Linked DNA regions of Homo sapiens. The protein of the gene in region 3 interacts with the protein of the main gene of each other region in a biochemical or structural test. Each region holds a gene or a part of one and is shown on either strand. Other genes may lie near its edges. The genes, in order: CCDC88C, OR3A1, MPDZ and HTR2B.

Region 1 (7,104 bases), on a different chromosome or scaffold from region 3:
TCTGGAATGATTACCTTGGCATATCACAGAGAGAACATCTAAAATTGCCCAGGGAAGGGGAGAAACCCTCCCACCCCACACCACCCCGGCCGAATTTAGCCATGGGCCAAATGAGAACAAGTGATGAGCTGGCGTTTCTCAAAGGAACGGTCCAACAGGCTTTCCTGATTTACAAGCAAGTGGGAAACGCTTCAGGAATTCCAAAGGTCAGGGAAGAAAGAGAAACAGTCCCAGTGCTTTTGTTCCCCCCTCTGCCTGGGTGTAGGAGCTGAATGAAAAGGCTGGGGATACTGCTGGTTTTTTTAATTAAACAGTCTTGGGCTTGGGTAAGGACAGGTTGAAGTTTCACCGGTCATTGCGCCAATGGAATCCAGTAATTTTCAGGGTCTAACAGAATGAGGGGAGAGTGGCCAGAACTCGAATATGCCACGAGACAGCTTCCGGAAAACTCAGTTTCAACAAAGTTATCTAAGAAGTGCTGTCAAAGCTGGCAACAGATTTATGTTTTTCAATCTAATCAGACACTGAAGACTGGTAAGATTGGTAGTGACTTTTTTTCCTACACCCACAGCTGTGAACTTTAAAAAAAAAAAAGCAAAAACCATTAAACAGCATGACATCAAATGACTTATTAAAATAAAAGGAGGCCGGGCACCACAGTGGCTCATGCCTGTAATCCCAGCACTTTGGGAGGCCAAGGCAGGCGGATCACCTGAGGTCGGGAGTTCGAGACCAGCCTAACATGGAGAAACCCCATTTCTACTAAAAATACAAAATTAGCCGGGCGTGGTGGCGCATGCCTGCAATCCCAGCTACTCGGGAGGCTGAGGTAGGATAATCGCTTGAACCCGGGAGGCGGAGGTTGTGGTGAGCTGAGATCACGCCATTGCACTCCAGCCTGGGCAACAAGAGCGAAACTCCGTCTCCAAAAAAAAAAAAAGCAAGGTTCTTGAATTATTTTTTTCTAAACAGGCTGTTTAAGGCAATCTATATAAGCCACTTTCTGGATATGCCAAAGCAAACTGCTCCTCTGCCTTTGTGAGCCACAAACGAAGCTGATCTCTCATTAGCTAATAGATTTATGCTCCAGTATGACAACTTGCTCAGTCGTAGGTGAATAGGTGCGCACACGAGGCTGATCCACAGAGAACATTAGGATGTTTTATTTTGCTTCAAGTGCCTGTGAATCATCCCGACACTCAGTTCCAATGTTCCCTGCAGTTTGAGTTAAAAACAGAATGCAAAGGTAGAAGCCAACACCTACGTTGTGGCAAGCTGTCAATCAGGCCGTGCAGAGCTCAGCAACAGGAAAGGATGTGGTCAGATGTACTCGCTGGCAAGAGTAACTTCTACTAAGACCCTGTTCAGGCTGCATGCTTCCAAACAAACAGCACCATGGGACCCTCCTAACACTGTGACTTTAAACTCAGTCCATACAGTAGGACTTAATGAATTGCACTTGCTTTGGGGCAACTGAAAAAGGAAGATGAAATGTAAAGGAGCTCAGAAACACAGACACCCTCATCTAAAATGAAACTTTACAGTAACCCTCGGATGCCTGGGCCCACCCCGACACTTCCTGTAACCAGACACTCTCCGTTACAGTTCCTTGCCCTCCAAAAGGGGACTTTTTCATTTCATTGCTCAAACCACAATTAAGTCCTTGAGTCTGAAGTCAATTGCACTATCTACACCACGTAAATGACAGTCATTCAATTCCAAATTTCCTTCATCAAACCAACTGCCAGACCCACTGTCCTGGAGTTCTTCAAACACCTACGAATGTCCAACAGGCACGTTAATACTGAGATACCAGCGTCTCCACCTTCAGAGAACTACCCCCCACCCCACACACACCCCGCCATGCAACCTTCCACTCCATTTCTACTCTCAAACTTTCTAACGCACCATTCTTTCCTTCCTCCGAGAAGAAGGTAACTTACATTTGCAGCATAATTTGGTTCAAAAAGATGCCGTCCACTAAATCCATGTACATAGTCAGGTTGTCCTGGCTGCCGCTTCCAAACGGGCCAAAAGTTTTCACCTGCGGGGAGGGGGACGAGGAGAGAAAGACAGGAAGTCACCCCGTGCGCACAAACGGTCCAAAGCTCTCCCAGGCAGAGACTGGACGGGTCAGTGTGAGCAGAAGGGGGTCACCCACGCCCACACCACCCTTCAGCAGGCACCAAGCCCGGCCTTCTCCTAGGGCCTGTCTCCCCTCCCCGCGCGGGGCAACAGACACGAGACAGGAGGAAAAACTTCCTCGCCACTTTTCTCCCGCGTTCCAGAGCGGAAGAAATAAAAATAAAAAGGACTTTTCAATAAATGTCTCACGTCTCAAATCCATTGTAAATCAGTGCGCCCACCCCAGTCTGTTCGCTTTCCCATTCGGCGCCCCCCATTCCCCACCCGTCACCGCCATCCACCGGCTGGTCTCAGGGATTCAGAAAAACTACATGAGATATTTGGTTGGGAAGAATGGGGTCCTTTTCGGGAGTGGCTAAACCCCAGGGACAGGAGTGACCACTGGGACCCGGTCCGCCCCGAGGCAGCCAGCCTAGAGCCCCAGCGGGAACAGGTGTACCCGCCCGGCTCCTGGCCCGGCCGAAAGCGCGGCGGGGTCCCGCGCCGGACGCACAACGGGGGCGCCGGCTCCAGAGTTACAAAGCTCCGGACTCCAGGACGCGGCCCCAACCCCGGCCGGGAGCCACTTGCTGCGTCCCTCGCGCCCCGGAGCCACCCGGGGCCCCGGCCGTGTCGGGTCTGCGGCGTCCCGTCGCCGGGCTAGAGAGAAGCCGGTGCACCAACAAAGGGGCGGGGAGCCAGGCGCACTCACCCAGGTCACCAGCGGGCTCTGCAGGAAGAGCTCCAGGAGCTCCGAGACTGTCACGTCCATGCTGAGGCTGCGCCCGCCGGCTCCGCGCCCCCCGCCCCGCGTCCCCGTTCCCCCGCGCCGCGGCACAAAACGGCTCCGCAGCGAGCAGCGGGCGCGGGGCTGCGGCGGCTCGCGCCCGGGAGACAAAGGCGGGGCGCGCGAGCCCACGTTCCGCGGCTTCGGCGGCCCCGCGCCCCGCCCGGGTCTGGGGGAAGGGGAGGGCCAGCCGCTCGGGGAGGAACAATACGGGCGGCCCCGCCCCTCGGCGGCCCTGGGCGACCGGCGCGCCGCCTCGCGGTGCCAGCCCGGGAGCCCGGGAGCCCGGGCGCGGGACCAGGCTACGCGGGGCGCTGGGAGGGGACTGGTGGCCCGAGGCGGGTGGGTCGCGGGGCCCGGCTCCCCGCCCGTGGGACCGCGCGCCCTCGCCGAGCGCAGCCTCCCCGCGTGTGGGGCCCCAGCACGTGGCGCATCCCTGCGCGCGTGCGCGTGCAGCCGGGGCCCGAGCGCCACGTGCGAGCTGGGGTGCGCGGGCACTGGTGCGTGCCGGGAGCGGGGACGCCCTGCCCTCCGAGGTTGCTCTGCCCTCCGAGGTCGCCCGCAGCTGCCGCCCGCTCTGGGCTTGGGGACCTCGGCCCTGCGCCTTTCCGCACTCCTGGCAGGTGCAGCCCCAGGTACAGTCAAGAGGCCCCGCAAACCCCCGCTCCTCACGCTTGTGCGCGGCGCGATAAACGCGCCCCGACCCTGGGGCTGGGCTGGAGGGCAAAGAAGAAACTTTATGTTGAGTTTAGGCCTTAGGGGCGCGGCCCCTCGCGCCCTACCGTGCCCCACCGTGCCATGTTCCGGGCTGCCTGCCTTCTAAAAGTTCCTGCAGGAAGCAGGTGATGTGGCCTCCCCGACCCGGGCCCGCCCCCACCACTTTGCCGGAGGCGAGCTAAATTCCAGCCGGGGTTCCTAGCAGCAGCTTAGTGGCAGGCGACAGGAAAAAGGGCAAAGGCCCCAACTGGCTGGAAGGCAAGCCCGGGGGCAGGACCTCCTTGCGGGACGGCACGAGGCAGGAGCCGGCTCCAGGCTGGTCTCGGCCTGGTAATAATTTCACACCACCAGCCGGTCATTGTTCAAAGCACTGTAGACCATTTTACTAATTTAACCCTAACGATCGCCGCATTTCGCAGCTGGGCCAACTGGTACAGGGTTGACCCGAAGGGCCCTGCGTGGCGCTTGGCAAGTATACAGCAGGCACTAAATGGCTGCCGACAGGCTCGGTGGTAATTTTGAAAGTTGGCTCTGTGCAGCGTTGGGGCTGCGGCATCTGCTGGTGGCGAGTGGTATTACAGCCCAGCGCTGGCGGACCCCGTTGGGCTGGGGAGGGTTGTGAGATTATGGCCTGAGAGCCAAGGGGGTCGGTTAGGGGTCCCTAGAGACTGTGGAAGGCGGGGTAGCATAAAACACAATGGGGGACTGCGGAGGAACTAAAATTTCGAGACTACATGGTTTTGTTGTGCACCAGAAGTTCATTAGAGAAGTTCCTTAATTGCTTCTCCGCCCGCCGCGATGGCACTCGACCCCGCGGATTAATTTAACAACTCTGATGGTTGCTCTGTGAAATTTAAAGAACAGTGGTTTAAGCAAAGACCACAAGAAAGAAGAATTGAGATCAAAGAGGAGTGTGTGCCATCGCTGTGGAGGAGTTTCAGTTGTGAATCATGAAATGTCCTGTAAACCATTTCAAGGAGTTTGATTTTTATACCAAAAACAATGGGAAGACACTACAGGTTTTTGGAGCAGCAGCTCAGACGTGTCGAAAAAGATGTTTTGATCCCTAAAATAATGAGAGAAAAGGCCAGAGAGAGGTCTTCTGACAAGTTCAAGATTTTACCAAATGTTGCAAGAACTCTGGAATCCTTATGGTAGTAAAATGCTGGAAAGAAAATTCTGCATTGAAAGAATGTCTTAACAGCTCACTATAATGACCCAGCCTTTTATGAATAATGCAAAGTGGAAAACCTGAAGGAAAAGGAAGAATTCAGAAAAACTGGAATTTCTACAAAGAAAAGTCTACAGAAGCTGCCCACAAGTGTGTAGACAAATATTCAGATGACATTCAGGATCTCTAATACTCATGGAAGTCGTTTATAGAATAAACCTTAAATAATGGACTCAAGAATGTGTGTTTGCTAATTATGTGTGTATCCTAATTATGGAAATATTAATTTTATCTGAAATAAAAATCTTTTTTTCTTTTCTCTTTTTTTTTTTTTTTTTTTTTTTTGAGACAACAGAGTCTCACTCTGTTGCCCAGGCTGGAGTGCAGTGGCGTGCTCTCTGCTCACTGCAACTCCGCCTCCCGGGTTCGCGCCATTCTCCTGCCTCAGCCTCCAGAGTAGTTGGGACTGCAGGCGCCCACCACCACGCCCGGCTAATTTTTTGTATTTTTTACTAGAGACGGGGTTTCACCGTGTTAGCCAGGATGGTCTCTATCTCCTGACCTCGTGATCCGCCTGCCTCGGCCTCCCAAAGTGCTGGGATTACAGGCGTGAGCCACCGCGCCCGGCTAAAAATCTTTTATTTAAAAAAGTTCCTTAATTGCTCATAATGTAAGTTAGTTCAAAAATAGGTATGATGTGTACACACACCGCTCTTCGCTCGGAAGCCTCTCTTCTGAAAAGTAAGGGATGCAGATGCGGCCAAAGTTGTTTTTCCAATTTTTTTGGAAAGACAAGGATGAGGAATCTTTAAAGTTATTTATTGAGGCCGGGTGCAGTGCCTCACACCTGTAATCCCAGCACTTTGGGAGGCCTAAGTAGGTGGATCACTTCAGCCCAAGAGTTCAAGACCAGCCTGGCCAAAAAAAATAGAAAAATTAGCTGGGTGTGGTGGTGCACACCTGTGATCCCAGCTACTCTGGAGGCTGAGAATCACTCGAACCCGGGAGGGGAAGGTTGCAGTGAGCTGCTATTGCACCATTGCACTCCAGCCTGGGTGACAGAGCAAGACTCTGTCTCAAAAAAAAAAATTTATTGAGTAAGCTTATTCTTTCACACTAAGAAATACAGTGGACAAATGCCTTCTGACAGTTGTGAGACTTTTCCCATCCTGGTGAGGGAATTTTCCCCTGGGGACATTGACAAGGCCCTGGGCCACAGCCATGTCAGGAATGTTTGCTTTGGGGTCAGTTAGCTGCTGTGTTGGTTCATAATCATTGATGTATCTGCTACCATGCCTTGGCTTGACTACGCCACCAGGATTAAAAGGATCTAACTCAGCTCCCTTGTTCCCTAGGAGGCAATGGGGCAGGCAAACTGGATGGTGCCCCAGGTGTAGCAAGCTTGGAAGGCTTCAAAGGACGGGACAAGTTTGGCCTGGACAAGTTTCCTCCTAGAAGTCACTTAATCTGCAAAATCAAGATAAGACCATTTTCCCCATGTGACTTGACAAGACAATATTAAAGCTCAAGGTGATGCATGTAAAAAGATTGTGGAAGCCATAAAGCTTTATAGAGATACATAATCACTGTCTCTTCCTCATCTCCTGCCCCATTCTGCTACCCTTGCTTTAATAAAAATTGTTTCCCCGAAGTCTCCGTCGGGCTGGGGCATAAGCTTCAAGGAGCAAATGCACAGACCCTCCACTGACCACTACACAGAGAGTCCCAATGCCCCTCCTCCATCCTTCCAGAACACCCTTGGCTTTCACTCCATCCATCTGAGCCTTAACTCTTTATTTTTAAGTTTTTCCTTGTTAATCTCTGGATATAAATGTATCTATTGCTTAATACATTGCTTCCTGGGTAGAAGCAGTATTTTGTGTTCTTCTGATAAAGGAATTTTCTACCCTCTCAGAAAATACTGACTCAGCAGTGTTAGCTAATGGCATTTCTACTTCACCTGATAGGAGCAGGAGCTTAAATTGTTACTACAACTTGGGGTGGGGAGAGGGAATGGCTATTTTTTTTTTTTTTCGAGACTGAGTCTTGCTCTGTCACCCAGGCTGGAGTGCAGTGGCGCAATCTTGGCTCACTGCAACCTCTGTCTCCCAGGGGTCAAGCTATCTCAGCTCACTACCATGCCGAGCTAATTTTTGTATTTTTAGTAGAGACAAGGTTTCGCCATGTTGGCCAGGCGGTTCTCAAACTCCTGACCTCAGGTGATCTGCCCGCCTCGGCCTCACAAAGTGCTGAGATTACAGGTGTGAGCCACTATGGCTGGCCACAAAATACTATATTCTATGAT
Region 2 (7,495 bases), on a different chromosome or scaffold from region 3:
ACAGGAATATACTAATTTCATTGTGCTTATACCAGGGAATTAGTAGACACTGACTAAAAACAGAGTATTGGAACTCTACACAAAGTTACAGTTATAAAAGTAACCCTAGAAAAAAATCTTCTAAAATATAAGAGGAAGGATGCATACAAAACAAAGACAAATGTAGCCCTTACAGTGAAAGGCTATTTCAAAACAATAAAAGCAAACAGTATAACATAACAGAACAAAATTAGTACCAAACACACTTACAATGATAAAGCCGAGTGGGCCAAGCTCATCTAGTAAAAGAAAAGAATTTCAGGTTGGATCTAAAAAATACAACTCTAGGCTGATGCCAAAATATACAGCCAAAACCAAGTTAATTAGAAAGGGTGAAAGGTAAAGGAATACCAGTCAGATGTAAACGAAAATAAAGCAGGGATCATAATCTTAATATAAAATGTGTTTGAATTCAAAAAAGTCAGTAAATGAGGAAAAGAAGAGCATTTTATAAGGGGTGCAAGAAGATGTAATAGGTATGAAAACGAATGTCCTAAGTATATAGCATTGATACGTAAAGCAAAAAGCACAGGATGTTCAAAGAGAAATAGTCAGAAACAGGGTAACAGTGGATTTTAGTGACTTTCAGTCCATATAAATTTAAGTTGGCAGAATAAAGGCGATAAAAACCTCAATATTTTTCAAGAGGTAGAACCAATTGACATTGTACACCTTCCTTAAAGTGCCCATGAAACATTTACTGCCCAGAAACAGCATATATAAAACCAGAAATTCAGCAAACTTCAAAAGAACAAATAATACAAACAATGATATATGATCACAGCCCAATGGAAAGAAACATGATTTTAAAAATAAAATCCAATATTTAAAGAAATCCTTAAGAAACGGTTGGACCAAACAGAGAATGAAAACTAAAACTAAAGAATATCTGCAGGAGAAGAAAAAGGAGATAATGACAGCAGCACATTTTAAAAAATGGATTAAATCAGTGTTCAGAAAAGAATTCGTAGCCTTAAATGAGTATATCCACAACAACGAAAGAATTAAATGATCCAATCAAGACATTAGAAAAGGAACCATAAGAAAAGTCATAATAAAAGCAAAACTTGAGTAGAAAGAAATACAGAGCTAATAAACAAGTTCAAGAAATCTTTTATGGGTAGGAAAAGGGGTACATAAACTTGTTAAATTTTTTATTAATTCAATCAATAAAAAGAAAATACAACTGTATAAAACAACAATTTATAAAGGAAAATAATCACAATTACATTAAAAGATTAAAAAGTACTTACAAAGTCACTTTACCCCAATCTATATTTTTTGAAAAATTGGACATAATTGGTAAAATATGATTAAAAATCATGTGAAAACTTGCTCGAGAAAAGTTGAAAAAATTGAAACAAGCTAATTACTATGGGAAAAAGATACAGAGAAAGTTGTTCAAAAAGGGACTCCATTCCATTACACTACCACCAACATTCCGCCATCCCCACCAAAAAATGGAAAAATTGTGTTAAACTTTCAAGGAATCATTTTTTCCAATGTTACTTGACTGTACTGGGATATTGAAGAAGGAAAGCTTTTCAAATTACGTTTATGGAAGGGGCATAACATCTGGTTCTTTTCTTTCACTCTCTGCTCCCTCAGCCAGTAGCTGCCCCCTCTGGGCCCTGCAGAGATTCCCTTTTCTACACAGGTTCATTTTATATCTGCAATTAAGGCAGAGCAGCAGTTATGGACACCAGGCAGAGCTGGTGGAAGCCTCAAAGCTAGAATCCCAAATTAGGTCCCCATAAGGTGGTGGCTGTCGGATTTGGGAGATGTTGCATAGGGTGTCTCCTAAAAATTCTTAAATCAACAATTCCTGTTGTATCACCCTCTGAGTCTAATCATCGACTTAAAAATCATTCACTATAAATACTCTGTGAATTGACATATCTATAGGAGCAGAACAATTCCCTTACATATTAAGTAATTAATTAAACTACCTCTCATTTGCCCTTTCCCATCCACTTTAACTCAGGTTGTAAGGTTTTACACCCTTTGATTCTGTATCTTCCCATCTTTGTTCTAACCATTTACTTTATCTGGAACATCCTCTAACTAATTCTAAGTTCTCAAATCCTTTGGCTCAATTAAAATGTGCTTCCTCTGTAAAGGTTTTCCTGGTCCTGCCCCATCTCATATTCCTGTCCACTAAACTCTGCGGCACTTTAATTGTATACTTTACGGCTCTTAGCTCTGTTAACCTCTCACACGGACATTTCTCTATAGAGCACACCTCCTCTACTCCATTGTGGCTTGCCAACAGATTTCTGCCAAATTCAGCTTTGCATTCTTAATGCCTTGTGTCACACTTTGCATACAGTAGGGTTCAATATTTCTGAAATAAATAAATAAATGAACTTTGAAAGTATGACCGTAAGAGCAACAATATTTCAGTAAAAGGGAGCATCAGATTGGGCTGTAGGAGTTGGGAAAGGCTTTCTGGATGAGCTGGAGTTTGTGCAACACGATAAAAGATTGATACGATTTAAGGGAGGTGCAAGTGTGAGGAAAAGGCACAGAAGTACTGCTGTAGGTGTCTCTTCTCCCTTTATCTAGATGGCGTGGGGTTTCTTTGTTGTTCTTCTTTTTTATTAGTTTCTTCTAGAGTCAAGATAGATGGGGTGGTTCTGAGGACTCATTTGGGAATAGTTAAGACATTAGTTAAAACAATCCATTCACGGAGATGTCTTTTTGATAGAACATCTCAAAAGAATTTGGCAATTAGGAATGGTAGACCCTATGAATAAATAAGAATAGGCTAGAAGAGTACACCCCACAGAGATGCCATATAACCCAACAAGAGTCTAGGATGAACACTGGTCTATGTTTCCAAGAAGCCTGTCTTACACAGGATCACAGTGATGACCTCACCTGTAGAGACTCACCTGGATTACCACTCTCAGGCATCCAGCTTGAGGCTCAGGCTGCCCTTATTGAGTGATCCTGGATCCCTGCTCCAACATTCCAACTAAGTCCTTTATGCATCTGATGATCGTGACTCAATACAACCCTCTGTTGTAGGAACCTGGTTCAGCGTTGCTCCCCGAGAAATGGGTCCAGGCAGGAAGGTTGGATTCTCTGAGTGCCCTCCTACTCACTTCAGTAAAAAGAGAAAGCAGGCCTCATCTAGGAAGGACGGGCATTGGCAACGTGCCCTGGCATGGGAGAGTCCCAGATCTTTCTCTCACTTGATATGTTATCTCGAACAAGACTCTCTTTCTCTAGTAAGTCCTCCATGAAATAAGAGATTTGACCACTTGGTAACAACTCAAATGCCACCTCTATTATTAGGGAGCAGAAGGGGGCCCCCGGAGAGTCCTCACCTCGTTGTGGATACAGAGGCCAGCAAGGTTTCTATTGAAGGGAAAGGAAGCGGGTGAAGCACTGTGCAGGCCTGTGCTCCGGAGAGCAAAGAAGGGCCATATACGAGAAAACGAGTGAGCCAGAAATGAGATCATCCAGTCATCTATCCACTGCCGTGTCAGCCTCTGGGGATCTCAGAATTAGCCCTTCCAGGAAGGTTCGGAGGTTTAGGGAGCCACAGAGCAATAAACAACCCAAGCTTTTAATGAACCCAATAATGATGCCTTATGACTTTGTGATGCTTTTGATTTTCTCAAAGAGGCCTCCCCTCCAACTCCTTACTGCACCCCTCATATTAGTTTCATGGGGGTAATTAGGGAGTATTAATAATCCCATTTATCATACCACACCAATGAAGTCCAGAGAATTTATTCATCTTCACAAAGCCACAGTGGATCTAATGGTGGTGCTGAGGCTAGAGTAAGTATCCAGACAGAGCGTTGTTCTCCCAGATTCCTCTCGGAACAAGAGTTCTGAGCAGAGAGAGCTGACTCTCAGGCTTGCCCTGGAGGTGAGAAGGAGGCACAAGAATGGAGACAAAAGGGAGAAGCTTTCTCCAACCTTGGCTTTCTAATGAGTCCTCAGGAATGCAGTGCTTTCTCCCTCAGGACCTTGTTAATCGGGGGCACTGGGGGGCACTGGAATTGCATCTTGGGGACCCCATCATGACTTTGGAATTGGTGGTAGAAGAGCTGAGTTCAGTTAGGAGGGACCAAGGGGTCCTGAGGGACGTCTCTTCCCACTGTAATTCTCTAGGCCAGGACCTTAGAAGTTGAGACTCTTGGTGATGAGGTTAATGAACGGCGAATGTGGAGAGGTTGCCGAGCCCTCCCTCAATGTCCTACTCCCTGTTCAAACAGGAAGTGCCCACCATGATGGAGACCTTGCATTTCCTTTGCTGCAAAACCTCCAGCCCTTCACACTTCCCCAGAAGAGCCTGGTAAGAAAAACACTGACGTGGTGTACACTCACACTTGCTTTTCCAGTGACTGACGGCGTGCCTTAGGACCAGCTGCTCAGCAACTCTGGCCTTCCATTTCTTCATGTGTAAAAACAGAATAATATTTCCAACCACAGAGGGTTGGTCTAAGAATTAAATAAAATAATAGTTAAAGCACTTGGTAGGGGATCAACAAATATTAATACTAATAAAATGGCAATCATTAATATTTGCTTTATTTTGGTGCATTATCTTAATTTTCTGGACAACTCTTTGACATGGCTTTGTTATTTGCTCCACTTTGCAGAGGAGGAATTTGAGGCTCGGGGAAGTTTAGTAACTTACTTAATGTTACCTATCTAGGATGTAGCAGAGCTGGACCTCAAGCCACAAAGCATGATTTTAACAACTTTTCTATAAGACTTTCCCTTCCCTCTTTTTTTTTTTTAATCTGCTTCAAAAAACAACTTTTATGACATCATCTGATCACTATGACTGTCTCTGCCCTCAAGACTCTGACTTTTGTGCCAGCCTTTTCAGCTTCTTCTAGCAAATGTAAATTAAAATCACAATGGAGGCTGGGAGCAGTGGCTTACGCCTGTAATCCTCACACTTTGGGAGGCCAAGGTGGGGGGATCACCTGAGGTCAGGAGTTCGAGACCAGCCTGGCCAACATGACAAAACCCCATTGCTACTAAAAATACAAAAATTAGCTGGGCATGGTGGCACATGCCTGTAATCCCAGCTACTCGGGAGGCTGAGGCAGGAGAATCACTTGAACCTGGGAGGCAGAGGTTGCAGTGAGCTGAGATCACACCACTGCACTCCAACCTGGGCAACAGAGTGAGAATCGGTCTCAAAATAAATAAATTAATTAATTAATTAAATAAAATCACAATAGAGACACTATTTTACATGTACTATTGGCCTAAATGAAGAAACGACATAATATCAAGTTTTGATGAAAATATTGAGCAACAAAAATTTTTTTCTTTTTTTTTTAAATTATACTTTAAGTTCTAGGGTACATGTGCACAATGTGCAGGTTTGTTACATATGTATACATGTGCTGTGTTGGTGTGCTGCACCCATTAACTCGTCATTTACATTAGGTATATCTCCTAATGCTGTCCCTCCCCCCTCCCCCCATCCCACGACAGGCCCTGGTGTGTGATGTTCCCCTTCCTGTGTCCAAGTGTTCTCATTGTTCAATTCCCACCTATGAGTGAGAACATGCGGTGTTTGGTTTTCTGTCCTTGTGATAGTTTGCTGAGAATGCTGGTTTCCAGCTTCATCCCTGTCCTTACAAAGGACATGAACTCATCCTTTTTTATGGCTGCATAGTATTTCATGGTGTATATGTGCCACATTTTCTTAATCCAGTCTATCACTGATGGACATTTGGGTTGGTTCCAAGTCTTTGCTATTGTGAATGGTGCCACAATAAACATACGTGTGCATGTGTCTTTATAGCAGCATGATTTATAATCCTTTGGGTATATACCCAGTAATGGGATTGCTGGGTCAAATGGTATTTCTGGTTCTAGTTCCGTGAGGAATCGCCACACTGTCTTCCACAATGGTTGAACTAGTTTACAGTCCCACCAACAGTGTAAAAGTGTTCCTATTTCTTCACATCCTCTCCAGCACCTGTTGTTTCCTGACTTTTTAATGATTGCCATTCTAACTGGTGTGAGATGGTATCTCATTGTGGTTTTGATTTGCATTTCTCTGATGGCCAGTGATGATGAGCATTTTTTCATGTGTCTGTTGGCTGCATAAATGTCTTCTTTTGAGAAGTGTCTGTTCATATACTTCACCCACTTTTTGATGGGGTTGTTTGACTTTTTCTTGTAAATTTCTTTAAGTTCTTTGTAGATTCTGGATATTAGCCCTTTGTCAGATGAGTAGATTGCAAAAATTTTCTCCCATTCTGTAGGTTGCCTGTTCACTCTGATGGTAGTTTCTTTTGCTGTGCAGAAGCTCTTGTTTAATTAGGTCCCATTTGTCAATTTTGGCTTTTGTTGCCATGGCTTTTGGTGTTTTAGACATGAAGTCCTTGTGCATGCCTATGTCCTGAATGGTATTGTCTAGGTTTTCTTCTAGGGTTTTTATGGTTTTAGGTCTAACATTTAAGTCTTTAATCCATCTTGAATTAATTTTTGTATAAGGTGTAACGAAGGGATCAATGTGCAAAAATCACAAGCATTCCTATAACAGACAAGCAGAGAGCCAAATAACACCAGTAACAGACAAGCAGAGAGCCAAATCATGAGTGAACTCCCATTCACAACTGCTTCAAAGAGAATAAAATACCTAGGAATCCAACTTACAAGGGACGTGAAGGACCTCTTCAAGAAGAACTACAAACCACTGCTCAACGAAATAAAAGAGGATACAAACAAATGGAAGAACATTCCATGCTCATGGATAGGAAGAATCAATAGCGTGAAAATGGCCATACTGCCCAAGGTAATTTATAGATTCAATGCCATCCCCATCAAGCTACCAATGACTTTCTTCACAGAATTGGAAAAAACTACTTTAAAGTTCATATGGAACCAAAAAAGAGCGCACATTGCCAAGACATTCCTAAGCCAAAAGAACAAAGCTGGAGGCATCACACTACCTGACTTCCAACTATACTACAAGGCTACAGTAACCAAAACAGCATGGTACTGGTACCAAAACAGATATATAGACCAATGGAACAGAACACAGCCCTCAGAAATAATACCACACATCTACAACCATCTGATCTTTGACAAACCTGACAAAAACATTCCCTATTTAATAAATGGTGCTGGGAAAACTGGCTAGCCATATGTAGAAAGCTGAAACTGGAGCAACAAAAATTTTTATACACTGCTGGTGAGATCATAAAATTGTACTATCACATGAAAACACAATTTGGGCTTTATTCTTTAAATATAGTTGCACTAATTCCGTTCCTAATTAGAGACCCAAAAGAAATTCTTGCACATGTACAATCCTACATGCCTCCACCTGCAGGATGTTGACCGACTGGGAAAGGGCTAGTGGCCACATTTCATCTGCAGATGCTTTGCTGTTGGTCTCGTCAAAGTGCCTGGTATCTGTCATGCACTGTGTGAGCCTAGGGCTCCATATCCAATGTCATGCTCA
Region 3 (7,026 bases):
CTTTACTAACCAAAGTTCATTAATATTTTTATGTATATTGTTGAGTTTCCATGGAGTTTCAATTTGAGCCTATTTTCCTTTAAATATAATGAAACCTCAAATTGGACAAAAATATTTAATGACCTGTTCCTGTAGGGAGTTTTGAAAAGAAATGATCAACTGTTAACCATTTGGCATTACCTCAGGCCATAAACTAATAAGCCAGCTGCTGACCACTATTAATGAATGTTTAGGGGAAAAGAGGGTGGTTAAAATTTGCAAGCTTACCTTTGCAAACACTGTTTTAACATAAATGGGTAAGTCTCCATGAGGGCTGCCATATCCTCCAACTATACTGAAGCCTAAGCCATCTGGTCCTCGCTCTAGTGTAATAGACTTACATTGAGGAGGTCTACGGTGAAGGAAAGGAAAAAGAGGTTTTAAATTAAAAAAAAAAAACTATACATATATGTTATGAATTATCTGACATCCACCTAGAGCTAGCATAATTCTCTTTGTTACTGACAAGGAGTATATTACGGGTATTTTTGAGATGCTTAAATTGTCAGTGCATGCTGTGCTTGGTATTTTAAATTTACATAATCTAATGAAATCCTACTTAACACCCTAATTCTATTACTCATTTACAGTTCCCTTAAACTAACATATTCATGGCATGTTCTCATTGTACAGAGAAGCTCATTCTTTTTCCAGTTTATTTAAAGTGAGAGGGCTAAAGTTCAGGGGACTATATTAGAATAAGTCATAAACATCAGTACGCCCAAGCTCAGAGAGAAAAATCAATTATAAGCAATGGAAAAGCTGCATCAAATTATTTAAAATTTCTAATGCGCCTCTCTCTTCTCCTCTGTTTTCCAATGCTTTTGTATCCAAGTATTGTTACTTAATACTGTGAATTTTTTCAGTCCAAATGATAATATATTAGATGAATAGGCAGTGCGGGAAATTTTAAAATGATAGATTTGACTTGCTCCATATTACATGAAGTGGTAACATCAAGACTAAAATGTCCTCCGCCCCAAAATCAGAGCTGAAACCATGGGAAGGGTAGTAGCACGCATATCTATCTAGCTAGTTATCTATCTCTACTTATCTTTGATCAGCTAAATCCATGCCACAATTATTTAAGTTTAGAAGCACCTGATATGTATAATTCACACTTCATATATCCTATCATTTTACCTGTACGTAATTCCTAGAAACATGGGACAGAGAACGCAACTGTCAGGAAGACTTGATTCATAAGTGAAAAATGATACACTAATCATCATGTATGAACTCACCCTAAATCATCCTGAAATATACTGCTTGACGTCAGCCCAGTGAAAGAAAGACTGGAACTTGCAGGCTCCTGCTGATGACCTGTGACCACACTCACGTCTCCTCCAGCAACCACCTGCGCACAGGAGGAGGATAAACAGAAAAAACACATGTTCCTGTGGCTAGGGAAAGTAATTTTTCTTCAGAAAGAGCACTTGGATTAAAATGTATATTTTATTGTTCATTTAAACATTTCTGTTAACATAAAATACAACCAAAGAGAATGAAATTTCACAAGGTCCAGAGGCTCTTAACTGTCCTGACAGTAAACATATTCTTCTAATTCTATTCTACAAAGTTCTTTGATGTTTTTAAAATGTGGTCTCATATGTAATTACTTTTTAAAGATCTTTAGAATATAAGCCACTTGCTAGCACCACTTAAAATTCCAGCAAATAATCATGTACTGCTAAGGCCTGGATTTTTTTCCCCTTAAAGTATAAAACAATCAATGCATCAGAGTAAAATGTTACAAAATATGTCTCATATGCACTTTATTGGAACTCTTAATTTAATCATTTATGTTCAAGAGAAATATTAAATAAAATAATAGCAGAAGATTTAATCATTTTTACTGCTTTAACATCAAAGCTCATGTGTCTTCAGGCTACCTATATTCTGAATTATGCTTGGGATAAAAATCTTACCTGCATTTCAATGGAGCCAGATGCATTTTTCAGTAGGTTAACTGCTTGGGTGTGAGTCATGCCCTCAGTGGATGTGCCACAGATGGTGACAATCCTATCCCCAACCTGCAAGGGAGAGAAAGAAACAGCCATCTGCTAAAGCAGCCATGGAGAGTGGGTCTTTGAGACCTAAGTATTCATTTCCTTCTCCACCTTCCACATGACATATATACTGCTACCAGCCACTGAAATATAACCAAGGAAACCACTAATTCCAAGAAGTCCAAAAAGCAGCAACCACAAAAAGAAGCAGTGCATAATGGTTGAGTTCCATATCCAGGGGAGAGGGAGGGAGAAGGAGAAAGTCACTCTTCCCTGCTCTTCATTTCTCTTGGGTGAGACATTACTTCCTATTAAAAGAAAAAAAAATTCACTATCATTTGGAAACTGAAATTTCTCTGGACATTACTATTATAATCATTAGATGTGACTCTAAGTCGGAGGTTGGCAAACTAAGGCCCAGAGGCCAAATTTGGCCCACTGCCTGTTTTGGTTAATAAAGTCTGGTTGGAAGACAGCCATGCTTATTTGGCTGCTTTCACAGCGCAGAGTTGAGTAGTTGCAACAGAGACTCACAGGTCCCACAAAGCCTAAAATATTCAGTATCTGTCCTTCCAGAAGTTTACTGACCCTGTGCTATGTATACAATCAGGTTTTAAGTGTCAGCCATAAATTTGGATATCAAACGAGGCTGAACCATTCCCAGCCTAAAGACTATTTAAACTAAAATGTGGTTATGTTCTGAGACCTATTTGAGGTATGAAACCATAGAGATTTTGCTTTAGAGAGACTGAGTTGCGTTAATGGAATATTCATGTAATTTTTAGAGCTGGGCAGTTGGCATAAATTCCATTGCAATGCTCCACAATTTGGATAATCCCTCAGCTTTGAGGCAAGTTGCATATAGTTTTATAACATTGTAAGTCATATTTATATTAAACTTCTGCAAAATTATCAGTGAATGCAAATAAGTAATACTTTTCAATTTAACAGAGTTAAATCGGCGTTTAAACCAATCAAATATATAAGATAAAAATTTCACTTCATACTGGTGTTCTGAAAATACTTTCTGTTCTCTTTTAGCTTGTTCCACAGAATTTCAACATATAAAAATATGTATTAGGAAACAACTATAAATCTTCCTATTTAACTGCAAATCTGCATTTTCTCCTTTCTTTTAATATTCTTTATCTTTTATTCCAAGCAAGCCTTGCTGTGGTTGGATTAGATGATTTAAAAGTAAATATAGATATTTAAAACTGCCTTGCAACAGGTAGCCAGGTTCAAAGGTTTATAAAAACACTTCTGCACATTTTGCTAGGGCTTCTAGGGTTGATAGTACGACTCACTCTGAGTTTTTGGGTCTGTGCTGCAACTCCAGTTGGGTGCATCATTGCAATAAATATAGGCACATCACCAAGTGGGCTGCCTACTCCTCCAGCGATGCTGATTCCCAGTGAGTCAGTAGGGCCCTGCCATGGAACAGATATAAAATTTTGGTCAAAGTGATATTTTTCATTGACCTTTTGTTTATTCTTTGGCATGATATCTATAGTCAACTCTGATTTTCTAAGTGTGAGGGGGAAAATGAAGAAGTGCAAGAAAACTGCATTACTTTACTTGACACAGGTGCTTAGCGTGGCTTAGGAAAATAAGCATCTGTTCAGGAAGTAAAATAAATCAAGACATGCTAAATGAAAATCATGTTGTGGAACTGATGAAAAGCAGGTAAACTCATGAAGTGAAAAGACCACACTTTTGGAATCAGAGTCCTGTGTTCAAAGCCACGAAGTCATACTTGCAAATGCTGGAACTTGGAATAAGTCCACTCCACTCAATAAATCATTAGATCTTCATTTACAAAATGGAGACAACAGTGCCTCTCACAGAGGGCTGCAGTGAATATTAAATGACATGATGATGACATGAAGTGTCTATAAGAGTGCTCAGAACAATAGTAAAAGCTCAATAAATCACAGCTGCTTTTACTTTGTCTCTTGTGCATGGCTGTCAAGGGAATCTGTTTCAGAACTAATAAGTATCTGTTGAAGAGAAAGGTTTACTTATAAGAAGTGAGAGGCATGGTATTATTTTGTGTGGGGTCAATTTTATGCTATTTTCAGCAAAACAGAGCATGCAAACAACGATTTTTCAAATGAGGTGCTGTGATCAGGAAATTCATTAAGGACTACATTATGTTATTTCACATGTAATATGTAAGAATACATACTTTTTGAGATGAATACTTTAAAACCGTAAGAAAGTTAACAAGAAAACACATATGAAGATGTCTCTTAAAACGCCAGGGTTTATATTGTTTTCTCTCCCCAAGTTACCTTTTTCATTTCGACTGTTCTTAATCCCTGTATTTCAGATGCCACTGTAAAGGCAAAAAAGATAAAATAGGGTTATTTTATGTTCATTCACTTTTTATGTTCGTTAAAATATCTAAAGCTGGATGGGACTAAATGATAACCTAGGTTTCTTTTTTTAAGGGGGTGCTCAAAGCTGCTAGTACACATGATTAGATCTGTCTTACACAGAACTATTTATTTTTCCAGTTGGAAAAACGTGTATACCATCCCATTCTTCCTTCTCATTTTAAGTGTTGATTATATAACTATGTAATCCACTTTGAATGAGTCAAGGGCAGAATGTGTTTTGCATAGAAAGGCACATGTGCACGGCTGAGAGGAATAAAGTCATGGATGCATTAAAAAAATTCACAAATTTAAGTGCCTAAATTTCTAGAATATTAGTCATACTGCAAACAGAGATTGCCATATTGTTAGTTTCTTCAATTTGAACAACTCTCAACCAATGCACCAAGCCAAAAATCCCTCTGCAGCATGATTTCACGTAATTAAAACACAGGAGGATCACATTAATTTTCTCAAATTTTTGCAATCTTCATGGAAAAAGAAGGCTTCACTTAATGGCATCTTCTGATTTACTGGTGTTACATTAAACACAGAAAAGGAATAAAATCAAAAACACCAATCTGCTTAGTAAGAAAAAAAAATTACAGAATCCTGATTATAATGTTTAGTGTATCTTGTAGGGTAAACATCAAATGGGAAAAGCTGCCATAGGCAGAACTTCATGTTGTTCAGACTTTTTGCTAACACGTGTTTTTGTACCTATATTTGGATATGGGATGATTTGGGGGAAAAGAAAGCTCAGAGGTAAACAAGACAAAAAAATCAGTGTTGACAGCCAAATTCAAACCATGTTTAAAATACTGAACCAATCTTACATGCATTCTTCTTTGAGCTACTTTCCAGTGACTCAGATGTACTGGATCCAGAGAGTGGAAAAGTGAAAGATGACAGGCTGCCTTCACTCACCTACAAATATACAACAATTATTTCAGAAGGTTTTGCAAGTAACATACTCCCTAAATACCACTTATTTCAGAATTTAATCTAGAGACAGATACCTGTTAAGCAACAGTGGCATTTGATAATTTGATGAGCAATTTAAACACAGTTCCTACTGATTTTTTTTCTTTTAAACAGAGAATGTGTCTAGTGACATAAATAAATTGAAGCTAAAAGGGTAGATGAAATTGATTCCAATCTACCTAAAATTTTAGTGGATAGTCATAATCTCATTCAAACTAATCTTCTTTAAATTTAAACTGATGTTGTAGGAAGACTAGGACTTAAACAAAAACTGTAGAATTAGGGCCAGCTAATAGGAAACTCATGGTAGTAATTTAGAAAGTTAGTATGGGGTCTTTAAGGACAGACTGATGAAAATGGGTTTCCATCATCAGTAGACAACACTGAGGAGAAGGTCAAGAGGTCTTGTCAAGAGTCTTGAAATATTTAACATCATATTTTTATACATGGTGCTGAGTATCTATAGTTCACTTATATGGGACTTTTCAGTTGAATATTGATTGATGTTGCTATAAAATATTTTTAAAATATGTTATCTTGGGGCCAGGTACGGTGGCTCATGCCTGTAATCCCAACACTTTGGGAGGCTGAGGCGGGTGGATCACGAGGTCAGGCGTTTGAGACCAGCCTGGCTGACATGGCGAAACCCCATCTCTAATAAAAATACAAAAATTAGCCAGGCATGGTGGTGCACGCCTGTAGTCCCAGCTACTCGGGAAGTAGAGACAGAAGAATCTACTTCGCCCGGGAGGCGAAGGTTGCAGTGAGCTGAGATTGTGCCACTGCACTCCAGCCTGGGTGACAGAGCGAGACTCTGTCTCAAAATAAATAAATAAATAAATAAAATAAATAAAATAATAAAAAATTTGTTATCTTGGTAGGCTTTACAATTAGGTAGTTACCTTTTGAGATTATGGAAAATGAATCATGTCAAAAAAGAATGCTTGAAATCAATTTCCTTAGAATGACTTACAAACTACTCAACAGCCACACCTTGTTTACCTGGCTATTCTGATTCCTTGTTCTTCTCTGTCTCAAACTCTGCACCTCAGTCACTATCCCACGCTGCCAGGGGACCAGACCTTGTACACAGACCCACAGTCAGGGCCATCTATGTGTCCTCTTGGCATGCCGATTGCATCGCCCTGATGAACTCCACAGCTACCCACCTGGCTGCTTTGAGATGGCCTCCTCTCTGAATGGAATGGACCAGCTTTGATTCTTCCAACTTCCAAGGTTACTGTGCCTAGGGAACACTGGGGGTGGGCATGGGGGGTGTTTTATGGAAATGTTTAAATAAAATGCTATAATCATCTTTAGGAATACATTTTACTCTTCAAGACTTTTTTGAAAGGCATCTTCCTTTTGGAATTTCTATAAGCAAGGATACCTCCAATCCCTTGTGGAAAATGGCTTTTTATAAAACATTCAAACTAATAAAAATAATCAGCAGCAGCAACACCAAGTGTTTACCTTATCACCTCATGATTTCTATGGAGACTACTTGTACCAAAAAGAAATGGAGAATTGAGCAATTATCTCATGAAACACACTAATTTTGATAGGACAAACAAGCTGAATAACTGAGGGTTTAAAAAACAAAGCGACTGTAATCC
Region 4 (7,026 bases), on a different chromosome or scaffold from region 3:
AATGGCAATCTTAACTCACCTCCAGATGTGATCACTGTTTTGTGCACTTATTTTTAGCTCTGTGTTCCTTTTGTTCTGTATCATGCCTTATGCTTTTAAGACCTGGAAGGCAAGGCTAATGTTTGTTTTGTTTTATTTCATTCTTAGCACAACTTTGCATATAATTAGAAACCAAATAAATTTTATGATGACAGTGGTTCTTTTTAAAGCCTGAAATTTATTGATTTGACTTTATTTCATTCGAATACCTTAAAATTTAACCAGAGTGCTGGATTGTTTTCATTTGTAGCTATATAAAATTATTTTCCTCATGGAATAATCTTGTCCAAATTAGGAAAATTAGATATTCTTAATACTTACATCTTAGGTTAAAGAGATGATTTGATATATGACATAAAATTCTTTATATAATATATTCTTGGCACATTTACATCTCATTCATCATCTTACTCATCATTATGTTTGATGACAACTGCCAGTTCTGCTATACATAACTAACTTGCTCTTCAGTTTTGTCACCTTCATTTTCAGTGAGGAGAAGCGTATCTAGTAGAATGATTGATGAAGACTGAATGGTTGAACTTCGGAGCCTCATTGGACTCTGGTACATGGCAGGGTTAATCCCATTTCGAATTCCATGTTTCTTGAAAAACTTAGAGTTCTCTGCCATTGGATTCCGGAAGTAGATCTTACTGGAGCGTTTTCTGAGAGTTTTTACTGACTTTGTGGCCCGGTAATTGCAGGTGATATATCGGCCAAATGCATCCCGAAATGTCTTATTGAAGAGGGTGTAGACCAAAGGATTCACTCCTGAGGAAACATAGCCTATCCACACAAATATCTCCAGGAGCATTTGGAGAGTAGTTTGGTTACAGGAATCACATAAAACTAAAGTTATATTTGTAATAAAGAAGGGACACCACATAAGCAAAAAGAGGAAAAACACAATCCCTAGGACCTTTGAGGCTCTCTGTTCGTTGGAAATGGTCTGCACTGACTTTTTCCCAATTGTGGATGTTCTTCGCATAAGTGTTTCATCACCTGAGTTGGGCAGAGCCTTGTCCTTTCGAGAACCATCCAGCATTGCCACCTTTTCCGGTGACGAGCAAGGTGTTTCATCCCTTTGGAAAACTGTAGACACAGTCAACCATGTTAGGCGTTGAGGTGGCTTGTTTTTGACTAAGTAAGCCTTCTTCTGTAAAGCATGGATAGTGAGAAAGTAGGTGACAATCATAATTGCAAGAGGTGTGAAGAAGGCAGCCAGTGAGCCAAAGAGCATGAAATCGCCAAAACGTTCCTTTGTCAGCACACAAGTGATATTGTTTGGGTTGTCCACATCAGTCTCTATCCCTTTAATAGGGACTGGAATGGCAATGCCTAAGGAAGAGGAAAACAAGATAAATTGAGTCATTTTATGACCTGTAACTCTTCGATTAGATCCTTTTGGATTGTATCCTTATAACTTTATGCTTGTTGGTGCATTATAATTCCTGGGACCCACAATGCAGGATTTGTCGAAGCATTCATCAGTGAAGATTTGACAAACAGAACCTAAGTGAGCAAATCTGTTTTTAAACGGAGATTGGTTAGTAATTTCAGATTTATAATGAAAGCTCCCCTAAAGCTATAGTATATCCATGATACAGTGGAGAATGTCTTCATTTATTCTACATTTCTCATAATCTATTTTTGTTTTTTAAGCTATCTCAGATTAAGGAAGAGAAATTCAGAAGAGAACCTGCTTTTTTCTTATTATCCAGTGTAGTTGATCTAGAGGCACTTCAGAGTACATTTATTCAATATCTTTACTCAGTTTTGTCTTTGAGGTTACAGTTTCATTTAACAGTTTTTCCTTTTGATATGTGTGAATGTCTTTTAATCCTTTCCATCTAACTTCTTAGGGAAAACTAAAGTTCATTAAAAAGTGCTACTTAAAATTTGAGTGTGTGTGAATCATGATGTTGAAAGATTATGAGTTCTTAATCTTTCTTCTTCTGTAGAAGCCTGGGCACAGTGGCGCTCATGCCTGTAATTCCAGCACTTTGGGAGGCCAAGTGGGGGTGGATTACTTGAGGTCAGGAGTTTGAGACAAGCCTGGCCAACATGGCGAAACCCCATCTCTACTAAAAATATGAAAATTAGCCAGGCATGGTGGCACGCGCCTGTACTCCCAGCTACTCAGGAGGCTAAGGTGGGAGAATCACTTGAACCCAGGAGGCCGAGGTTGCAGTGAGCCGAGATCACACCACTGCCCTCCACGCTCAGCGACAAAGTAAGACTCTGTCTCAAAAAAAAAGTTCTTTTATGACCTGGGAAAGAAATATACCTCATGTTAGTTTTCTGATCTTTAAATACCATGAAGTATTTAAATATGATGTTTCTTAGTGAAGTAGCTTATTAGAAAGACAAATAATACAGGGGTTAACCTGAATCTTTTTCCTTTGAAACAGCAGATATTTTTTAAATGTCTGAATTAATTGATCTTTAGAAACCTCTGGAATCCTTGTGTTGTTTTGTGAATCCAAGAGCACCCCTCATCTACACACCCTTTTTATGGTAGCTAAAGAGCCATTGACAAGAATATGTTCCTCAAACCCTTTCTAACAGAGGTCATTACTTTCTCTACTTTTCCTCATGTACACCACCAGAAAGAGGATTCTGTATACTTGTTCTACACCAGGGGTCATTATACTACAGTTTGAGGACCATTGGCCCACATTCTATTTTTGTAAAAGTTTTATTGGCATACTGCCACTCCCATTTGTTAGTAACATATTGTCTGTGGCTGCTTTTGTTCTACTGCAGCAGAATGGAGGAGCTGTGACAGAAACCATATACGCCCTGCAAGCCCAAAATATTTGCTGTCTTACCCTTTATAGAAAAAGTTTGCTGACCCCTGCTTTACCCTGTTACTTTCAGATCACCATTCCACTGTTTATTTCTCCCCCAAAACACTTGCCTTTTGAAGTTTATTTTATCTACTTAATACTTTCTTCTCCATCTTGCTTTTCTGTTAACCTCCATGACATTTGTTCATCTTCATCAATGGCTTCAGTACCTGCTATAGTCTTCTCTCCACTGTTCCAGTGCCAGCATTTTCTACTTCATCCCATTCGTGACCCTTCTAAGACCTTAATTTTATATTTCTTGAACTCTTTGACTCTAATTATTATTATTTGCACTAAAGCCATCTACAAGTCTACTTAGAACAATCCCTAAGATTATGAACTCTAATACTTCCCTTCCTTGTCCTGCTACCCCTCACTCCTAGAGAACTTCTGTTTCCTGTTATTTTTATCTCTAGTTCATTCATTCATCTCAGTTTTCACATTCTATTAACTCATTCTATTAATGAGACTTCATTCATCTCAGTTTTTACATTCTGTTAATATCAGGACTCACACTACTTTCCTATCCAGCTTGTTGGTCAATAACTGTAAAAGTTTTCACTGGTACTTTTTATGCCCTTACCCTGTTATATTATTATACTTTCTGTTGCCAGGTATTACCTAGAATAACTGTAAATCCAAAAGAAGAGAGTGAGCTCTCTTCAGCATTTTGTAGAATTTCAGAACTGAGCTTATTGTCATCTGCATTTTCATTTTTTCAAAGTTATTAATTTGTGATCGGTTCTACAAGACAAAGTGCAATGAAGTGAAAGAGCGTTGATTTTGGCCTTGGTGCTGAAAAGCTGTAAGAGTTCTTAAGCCAACTGATTAAAACCTCTAGGTTTCTTTTTTCTTACCTACAAAAGGAAGAAGTGGATTTCTAAATCTATATATCATGAGTCTTCCTTTTAATCTTTTTTCTCCTGCATCACTCATCACTTTGTGTTAGTGTAATTTGTTTATATGTCCGCCTTTCTTGAATGCAAAGATTCTTTTTCTTGATCATCTGTGTATTCTTAGTACCTAGCACATTATAAACACTCAATAAAAATGTGGTCAATTTATAAATTGATGGTATCCAGCCTTAATCTAGATGCCATTTATACCAGCAGGCTGCTTACCTTATTAGCTTGATCACATTTCACAGTTTCAAATATTTTAATTATTCTTAAGGATCCATTTCTTCAACTTTTTTTCCCTTTCTCTGTCCAACTCTCCCACCCCACCCCAATATACACATACCTCACACTCTCCCTTGCCCTCTCCCTCATTGCAGTGAGCTTACCAAATGTGAGTCATCTGGCATAAATGACTTTATTATAGTTTTCCTCCTCTGCACTTCAAATTTTAATTTTCACCCATTGTCTCCCATTCCCTTTCTGTAGCTGCTTTTGGGGGGCTGGTTCTGCTCTGTCGGCATCTGCCCCCTCATCTAGCCTTTTCTCACTGTTTTTAAATCTCTTCATTCTGAATAGACTTTTTCTTGACCCTGTTTTCTTCCCATACCAGAGGAGTAACACAGCTTGCTTTTACCTCCAAACTTTTTCAAAGAGATCAAGCCCTTATATCATCATTTCAGGAATATGAAGGTCAATCTCATTGTTTTGCTTTCTTGCTGTTTTTGCCCCAGTGCCCCTACTCAGATTAGGGAGGAGTAATTTAAGTATTCCAGGTCTCTTAATTTTTTGCCTCTTTGAAATATTTTTACAAGGAAGAAGAGAATCTGCTGGTCAAACCATTGTAATTTTTGCAAATCTATTTGTTTTTCTGATACTAACATATAAGAGTTTTGAATGATTTACGCATACTTCATGATAAGAAGTATAGCTTTGAGTATTATAGATGAGTACAGGGCCGTAAGACGATTTAGAAGAAAAAGGATTTCTTTTATACATAATTTCTGAACATCGGTATGTTTTCTTTGCATCTCTCTTAAAACTTTGAATTAAACATACTCAAAACACTTAAGTGCAGTGACTCACGCCTGTAATCCCAGCACTTTGGGAGGCTGGGGCAGGGGGATCGCCAGAGCTCAAGAGTTTGAGACCAGCCTGGGCAACATGACAAAACCCCACCTCTACCAAAAATACAAAAATTAGCCAGGCATGGGGGGTGTGTCTGTAGTCCCAGCTACCTGGGAGGCTGAGGTGGGAGGATCGCTTGAGCCCGGGAAGTCGAGGCAGCAGTGAACCATGATTGTGCCATTGCACTCTAGCCTGGGTGACAGAGCAAGACCCTGTCTCCAAAAAAGAAAAAACAAACCAAAAAAACCCACTGAAGCAGACACTTAACTGCCTTTAATCTGTACACATATGTACAGAAATGTTGGCTTCCAAGATGAATTTGTGTTCTTTGATACCTGCCCACAAAATGTTTGAGTTGTTATTTTTGTTTTTTCTCTTATTAATCTTTTAAAATGTGATTTAAGGTGCATTTCTTGTTATTTTAATGTAATTACAGGATTCCAAATGCTAGCTAGACCATAATTATCTGTTGGGAAATATGAAGACTGTTCTCAAACTTAACCTTTCTGCATATAGAAATCTAAGCAGAAAGAAATCTCAATAAACACTGTGCAGATGGTTCTTTCTGAGGACATGAGTTTTGTTACTTGTCACACTTTTTACCAACAGTATGTTTTAGAAGGCGTATGATAAATGCAGTGACATAAGGAGCTTATGTTAATGTATCAGTAGGCTGGCTTGACCTCTCATGCTGAGTTTCATTGCCTACCAGACCTGGTATTCTCCTAGCCAAGTGGAACCAAAGATTTTGTATACCACCCACACTCTGGCATTCTCTACATACCTATTGAAATTAACCACACCACTGTAATCTTGATGAATGCTGTAGCCCGTGAGTTATATTGATTGGCCTGGATTGGCTTTTTGATGGCTATGTAACGATCCACTGAAATGGCACAGAGATGCATGATGGATGCGGTTGAAAAGAGAACGTCAAGAAATAACCAGGCAGGACATAGAACAAGTGGGAGGGGCCACATAGCCTCTGAAAGAAACAAAAACAAGACAAACATTTTATTCTATAAAATGGCAACTTTCAGTCTACAGTTTTTCAGGTGATACATCTTTTGTCTTTTTTGTTACTCATCTGAAATTTTATAACTTTAACAACATAATGTTTAACTTCAGATAATGGAGACAACATTAAATTCAATATTTCTGTGGATGGTAACTTTTAAATACATTTTCTATTTTGCATAATAATTGTGCCTTTTTTCTAAGTCAGCAGCAGTTTAACTTTTTAGCATTATTATGACCTTTGCTCTTTTGTCGATTCCATTTGTGATCTTTTTAAAATTTATGTAGTATTGTGACTGGAACTTAACCTTGGTATTTAAATAAAATTTATTTTTAAGTAGCTGTTGTATAAAAAGAAAACATTTTACCATGTAGAGGAAACAGTATGACAAAAAGCGTATTAGAATGGGAGTCTCTGTGACACCTGGGTTTTGGGCTCACTTCTAGCAATAACTAGCAGCAAGATCCTTGTTTATAGCATACTCTAGTTTGGTGAAATAGTGGAGTGATTTTTTTGACAGAAATAGTTCTCAAATAAAGATTGCAAAAGGAATGGCTTCAGATTATCCGGAAGAAAAGTAGATTGTTTCCCCTTCTATATTTCATCATTCACTCCAAAAACTGGAGATAAAATAATTAGTACAGACTTTTGATTTGAAAAGAAAATCTCAGGGTTAGACGTAGTACTTAATTTATTTAACAAACTCTTATAAAACACTGCATACTTCATATAGTCTTAAGCACTTTAGAAATATTAACCTTAAAAAAATTTTAGGTGTGGATGTGATATTGAATATTCTGCATAGTTTTCTAATAAATTTACTTACACAGATGTTCATACATATGTGAATTTAATATATTATGCATTATATATTACACCCACCACTTAACATGTTTACAGTTTCAAAACAACTAAAATTTTAGAATTCCCCCTAGAATATTTCCATTAGAATCCAGTTTAACTCCTGTAGAGAACAGATGTCATGCATGTGAGATTATCTAAGTCTCTTTTAGGATTTGATTGTTATATGTCCACTGATAAAATGTAATCTACTTTTCTTCTGGCTATTGCAGGTATATCTGACTTTGACAGGTAT

Evidence for each region.
Region 1: the proteins of MPDZ (region 3) and CCDC88C form a complex in vitro, tested with the Homo sapiens proteins (one study listed by BioGRID).
Region 2: the proteins of MPDZ (region 3) and OR3A1 interact in a test that uses a peptide from one of them, tested with the Homo sapiens proteins (one study listed by IntAct).
Region 4: the proteins of MPDZ (region 3) and HTR2B form a complex in vitro, tested with the Homo sapiens proteins (one study listed by IntAct).

Annotation. Positions count from the first base shown.
Region 1 is NC_000014.9:91,414,795-91,421,898, forward strand, and holds the start of CCDC88C (protein Daple), read right to left. Parts: upstream 3,027-7,104; 5' UTR 2,897-3,026; coding exon 2,837-2,896; intron 2,809-2,836; exon of another isoform or gene 2,585-2,808; intron 2,045-2,584; coding exon 1,944-2,044; intron 1-1,943. UniProt on the Homo sapiens protein: Required for activation of guanine nucleotide-binding proteins (G-proteins) during non-canonical Wnt signaling. Binds to ligand-activated Wnt receptor FZD7, displacing DVL1 from the FZD7 receptor and leading to inhibition of canonical Wnt signaling.
Region 2 is NC_000017.11:3,295,350-3,302,844, forward strand, and holds the start of OR3A1 (olfactory receptor 3A1), read right to left. Parts: upstream 3,012-7,495; 5' UTR 2,934-3,011; intron 1-2,933. UniProt on the Homo sapiens protein: Odorant receptor.
Region 3 is NC_000009.12:13,108,669-13,115,694, forward strand, and holds part of MPDZ (multiple PDZ domain protein), read right to left. Parts: intron 6,667-7,026; coding exon 6,580-6,666; intron 5,354-6,579; coding exon 5,263-5,353; intron 4,387-5,262; coding exon 4,343-4,386; intron 3,479-4,342; coding exon 3,356-3,478; intron 2,073-3,355; coding exon 1,968-2,072; intron 1,397-1,967; coding exon 1,284-1,396; intron 392-1,283; coding exon 268-391; intron 1-267. UniProt on the Homo sapiens protein: Member of the NMDAR signaling complex that may play a role in control of AMPAR potentiation and synaptic plasticity in excitatory synapses. Promotes clustering of HT2RC at the cell surface.
Region 4 is NC_000002.12:231,108,033-231,115,058, forward strand, and holds the end of HTR2B (5-hydroxytryptamine receptor 2B), read right to left. Parts: intron 5,898-7,026; coding exon 5,697-5,897; intron 1,378-5,696; coding exon 485-1,377; 3' UTR 198-484; downstream 1-197. UniProt on the Homo sapiens protein: G-protein coupled receptor for 5-hydroxytryptamine (serotonin). Also functions as a receptor for various ergot alkaloid derivatives and psychoactive substances.